2 separate regions of the Homo sapiens genome follow, and region 2 is linked to region 1. A link means that fine-mapping ties the variant in region 1 to the expression of a gene that starts in the linked region. Tissue or cell type: whole blood. Region 1 holds a variant in brackets; the other region holds the start of a gene. All regions are shown on one strand. Distances are from middle to middle.

What was found. PIP is the estimated chance that this variant, and not a neighbour inherited with it, causes the effect.
Region 2: it holds the start of TNFRSF1B, and the variant in region 1 is fine-mapped to the expression of TNFRSF1B in whole blood (TOPMed, PIP above 0.99).

What each region holds. Positions count from the first base shown.
Region 1 is chr1:12,206,398-12,209,133 of GRCh38, forward strand. TNFRSF1B (TNF receptor superfamily member 1B) reads left to right here. Exons shown (of 10, transcript NM_001066.3): 10 at 343-2,736. The coding sequence ends at 623. Among named protein-coding and RNA genes, the nearest start is that of MIR4632, 16 kb to the left of the region's middle. RefSeq lists an enhancer at 593-1,093. The variant C/A (reference allele first, on the strand shown) is at 1,010.
Region 2 is chr1:12,165,673-12,168,285 of GRCh38, forward strand. TNFRSF1B (TNF receptor superfamily member 1B) reads left to right here and starts at 1,319. Exons shown (of 10, transcript NM_001066.3): 1 at 1,319-1,497. The coding sequence starts at 1,420. It overlaps MIR7846 (microRNA 7846), which reads left to right and starts at 1,271; the gene lies at 1,271-1,366. RefSeq lists silencers at 1,155-1,464, 1,475-1,704 and an enhancer at 1,745-2,386.

The sequences.
Region 1 (2,736 bases):
ACTATGTTGCCCAGTCTGGTCTTGAACTCCTGGGCTCAAGCGATCCTACAAACTTGGCCTCCCAAGTAGACATCTGTTTTATATAATTGGCTCCTCCCATCTCTGGGGTGATTGGGGCTGGGTAGGTAGTGATGCTATTCTTATTCGGCAGAGGGGAAAATGAGGCACATGCAGGTTAAGTGACTTGCTCAAGGTCACACAGCAGAGCTGGGCTAGAATCTTGGTCTCGGCTCCTGGCCCAGTGCTCTTTCCCATGTGTCTGAATCTGCATCTTGGGCAGGGGTCCCTGGGCCCCACTCCTGGACCCCCGGACTGACCCCCACCCCATCTTGTGCTTAGCAGATTCTTCCCCTGGTGGCCATGGGACCCAGGTCAATGTCACCTGCATCGTGAACGTCTGTAGCAGCTCTGACCACAGCTCACAGTGCTCCTCCCAAGCCAGCTCCACAATGGGAGACACAGATTCCAGCCCCTCGGAGTCCCCGAAGGACGAGCAGGTCCCCTTCTCCAAGGAGGAATGTGCCTTTCGGTCACAGCTGGAGACGCCAGAGACCCTGCTGGGGAGCACCGAAGAGAAGCCCCTGCCCCTTGGAGTGCCTGATGCTGGGATGAAGCCCAGTTAACCAGGCCGGTGTGGGCTGTGTCGTAGCCAAGGTGGGCTGAGCCCTGGCAGGATGACCCTGCGAAGGGGCCCTGGTCCTTCCAGGCCCCCACCACTAGGACTCTGAGGCTCTTTCTGGGCCAAGTTCCTCTAGTGCCCTCCACAGCCGCAGCCTCCCTCTGACCTGCAGGCCAAGAGCAGAGGCAGCGAGTTGTGGAAAGCCTCTGCTGCCATGGCGTGTCCCTCTCGGAAGGCTGGCTGGGCATGGACGTTCGGGGCATGCTGGGGCAAGTCCCTGACTCTCTGTGACCTGCCCCGCCCAGCTGCACCTGCCAGCCTGGCTTCTGGAGCCCTTGGGTTTTTTGTTTGTTTGTTTGTTTGTTTGTTTGTTTCTCCCCCTGGGCTCTG[C/A]CCCAGCTCTGGCTTCCAGAAAACCCCAGCATCCTTTTCTGCAGAGGGGCTTTCTGGAGAGGAGGGATGCTGCCTGAGTCACCCATGAAGACAGGACAGTGCTTCAGCCTGAGGCTGAGACTGCGGGATGGTCCTGGGGCTCTGTGCAGGGAGGAGGTGGCAGCCCTGTAGGGAACGGGGTCCTTCAAGTTAGCTCAGGAGGCTTGGAAAGCATCACCTCAGGCCAGGTGCAGTGGCTCACGCCTATGATCCCAGCACTTTGGGAGGCTGAGGCGGGTGGATCACCTGAGGTTAGGAGTTCGAGACCAGCCTGGCCAACATGGTAAAACCCCATCTCTACTAAAAATACAGAAATTAGCCGGGCGTGGTGGCGGGCACCTATAGTCCCAGCTACTCAGAAGCCTGAGGCTGGGAAATCGTTTGAACCCGGGAAGCGGAGGTTGCAGGGAGCCGAGATCACGCCACTGCACTCCAGCCTGGGCGACAGAGCGAGAGTCTGTCTCAAAAGAAAAAAAAAAGCACCGCCTCCAAATGCCAACTTGTCCTTTTGTACCATGGTGTGAAAGTCAGATGCCCAGAGGGCCCAGGCAGGCCACCATATTCAGTGCTGTGGCCTGGGCAAGATAACGCACTTCTAACTAGAAATCTGCCAATTTTTTAAAAAAGTAAGTACCACTCAGGCCAACAAGCCAACGACAAAGCCAAACTCTGCCAGCCACATCCAACCCCCCACCTGCCATTTGCACCCTCCGCCTTCACTCCGGTGTGCCTGCAGCCCCGCGCCTCCTTCCTTGCTGTCCTAGGCCACACCATCTCCTTTCAGGGAATTTCAGGAACTAGAGATGACTGAGTCCTCGTAGCCATCTCTCTACTCCTACCTCAGCCTAGACCCTCCTCCTCCCCCAGAGGGGTGGGTTCCTCTTCCCCACTCCCCACCTTCAATTCCTGGGCCCCAAACGGGCTGCCCTGCCACTTTGGTACATGGCCAGTGTGATCCCAAGTGCCAGTCTTGTGTCTGCGTCTGTGTTGCGTGTCGTGGGTGTGTGTAGCCAAGGTCGGTAAGTTGAATGGCCTGCCTTGAAGCCACTGAAGCTGGGATTCCTCCCCATTAGAGTCAGCCTTCCCCCTCCCAGGGCCAGGGCCCTGCAGAGGGGAAACCAGTGTAGCCTTGCCCGGATTCTGGGAGGAAGCAGGTTGAGGGGCTCCTGGAAAGGCTCAGTCTCAGGAGCATGGGGATAAAGGAGAAGGCATGAAATTGTCTAGCAGAGCAGGGGCAGGGTGATAAATTGTTGATAAATTCCACTGGACTTGAGCTTGGCAGCTGAACTATTGGAGGGTGGGAGAGCCCAGCCATTACCATGGAGACAAGAAGGGTTTTCCACCCTGGAATCAAGATGTCAGACTGGCTGGCTGCAGTGACGTGCACCTGTACTCAGGAGGCTGAGGGGAGGATCACTGGAGCCCAGGAGTTTGAGGCTGCAGCGAGCTATGATCGCGCCACTACACTCCAGCCTGAGCAACAGAGTGAGACCCTGTCTCTTAAAGAAAAAAAAAGTCAGACTGCTGGGACTGGCCAGGTTTCTGCCCACATTGGACCCACATGAGGACATGATGGAGCGCACCTGCCCCCTGGTGGACAGTCCTGGGAGAACCTCAGGCTTCCTTGGCATCACAGGGCAGAGCCGGGAAGCGATGAATTTGGAGACTCTGTGGGGCCTTGGTTCCCT
Region 2 (2,613 bases), 41 kb before region 1:
CGGGAGCAAGGGTCTCTGTACCTCTTCAGGCAGCCTGCAGTGAGGAAACAGGGAACAGAATAGCCTCCTGCCACCCAGCCCACCCCAACCCTTAGAAATGCCCTATGTGCTGGGGGCTAGGACCCCCGTAATCCAGGGCTGGAGGAATGTGCTCTGGCCCCGCAGGGCTGGCCCTGTATTAGGGCTGGCACTCAAAGTGGGGATGGGGGGACAGATTGCAGCTGGAATGGGTGCTCGGTCATGATGTAAATCCTGGGGAAGCCAGCTCTCCTGGGCCTGGTCTCAGCAGCCCCTCAGGGCCCTGCAGCTTCCCTGGTGACATTCTCTCCCAGCCTCTGTTCATCTGCCCCCTGCCTGGGCAGGAGACTTGAGCAGGGAAGTGCAGAGTCTTCTCCCTGTGAGAAGGCTGGATGCGTGTTTAAGGATAAATGAACACGCGAAGAGTAGTAACAACAGCCAAGATTTATAAATGCCTATTGTTATATATGTAGATACTTACTTAAGTATATATAAAGTACAGACTGCATTATGTATATTACATATCTTTAAATTTTTAGAATAGTCCTATGAGGTCAGTTCAGAGATCCAGACCCAGGTGGTCTGGCTCTAGAGTCTAAACAGGCCGAGTGCAGTGGCTCACACCTATAATCCCAGCACCTTGGGAGGCCAGAGGCGGGAAGATCACTTGAGGGTGGGAAGAACACGTGAGCTCAGGAGTTCGAGACCAGCCTGGACAACATGGCGAAACCCCATCTCTATAAAGAAATCAGCCTAGCATGGTGGCCCGAGCCTGTAGTCCCAGCTACTCGGGAGGCTGAGGTGGGAGGATCGCTTGAGCGCAGGAGTTGGAGGCTGCAGTGAGCTATGGGTGAAAGAGTGAGACCTTGTCTCAAAAAAAATTAAAAAATAAGAATTAAATATATTTAAAATAGAGTCTAAATAAGTGAATGATCTAGAATTCTCTTGGTTCCCCTAAAGCAGCTGTCAGCTTTGGGGGATGTTTTTCCAAATTAGTGCCTCACCCTCACGGGACAGGGAAGCCTGTGGGAGCTGGGAGGGCAGGTGGAGGCCGGGCAGGTGGAGGCCGGGCAGGTGGAGATGGTGATTCGAAGAGGAGGGGACGATAGGAGGAGGTTGAGGGGTCACCCGAGTGCTGGGAGTGACGCTGGAGGTATCGGCCCAGCGATGCTGGAGTGGTCGGGTCGGAGGCCCAGCAGCGTCTGGGGAGGGGCGTGGGGGAGGCGTGTCCAAGGCCGGCTGGCCCCGCCCCGCCCCGCCGCCTGGCCTCTGGCCCGCTGGGGCGCGGGCTTTCGCTTTCAGTCGAGGGCTAGCGAGCGCAGCGGAGCCTGGAGAGAAGGCGCTGGGCTGCGAGGGCGCGAGGGCGCGAGGGCAGGGGGCAACCGGACCCCGCCCGCACCCATGGCGCCCGTCGCCGTCTGGGCCGCGCTGGCCGTCGGACTGGAGCTCTGGGCTGCGGCGCACGCCTTGCCCGCCCAGGTGGGTGACTCGCGCGGCCCACGGGGGACAGCCGCCCCGCATGTCCACCCGGCTGGTGCGCAGCCTTCGGGTGCCCGGGCCGCGCTCTCCCGGGGCGCTGTCACGGGCTGGGAGGCTGGGAGTCCCAGTCGCCGCCCCCCATCCGCATCAGACACGCGCGCCTCTGGGGACCCGCTGGGGACTCCGGGCCCGGCACACGTGCGCTCGGGGCACAACTCTGGCCCCCGAAGCCCCTCTTACCCGCGTCGTGACAGGGGCGCACCCTGGTTCCTCCGCGAGCGCAGGCCGGGGCATTTGGGGCTGAGCAGCGGGTCCTGGGCAGACCCCCGCTAGACCCGGGACCCCTCTTCCCTCACCCCGGCGACTGCCGCGACAGCCCTTCCCTCCCACGCGGTGGAGAAGGGGCTGTGCCGGGGCGCTGCCCCACTGCCCACGCCGGGCACCCTCTTCAAAAGACTTCCTTTTCCTCTGGGCGACGGTTTTCCGATTTCTTAGAAATACCAGGGTCCTGTGTCTGAAGAGCAGGACCAGGTGTGTGTCAGGTCCACTGAGGGCACAGCTGGAGGGCGAGCTGCCTGTCTGCTTCCTCCGATGCGTCCGGGGGCTACTGCAGAGTCTGTTTTCTGCGGCCTCTGGGGACAGGGCAAGCGAGGGAGGTCTGGGCTGGTAATCGAGCAAGGCAAATGAAGTCTCCGGGGGCCGCAGGAAAATGGAGACAGCAGAAACCCTAGGGCTCCTATTCAATATGAACGTCACTCCCACAGTAGCAACGGGCGTACAAGGGACTGTGCACCCTTTGCCTGTTTTTGACTGTCTCCTGGTCTGGTAACATAGGATAACCCCATTTTTGTTTTACTGTCTCCATGGTTTGGTAAGATAAGATAAACCATTTTTTAGAGAAGGAAAACTGAGGCTCAGAGAACTTGTATTTCATGGAAGGGTCTGGGGGGAACTCTTCCTCCAAAGGGGGCCTCTCCTGCCTTCGGCCCCTGTGCCCTGAGGCTGCGGGGAAGGTGGGCGTTCATCCTTCCTCAGAGCCGCCCCTGATGGACACATGGCCCATCTGCCCCCATCTGACATCTTGACCGAGGAGGAAGGTGGGAGGTGGCACTGGCT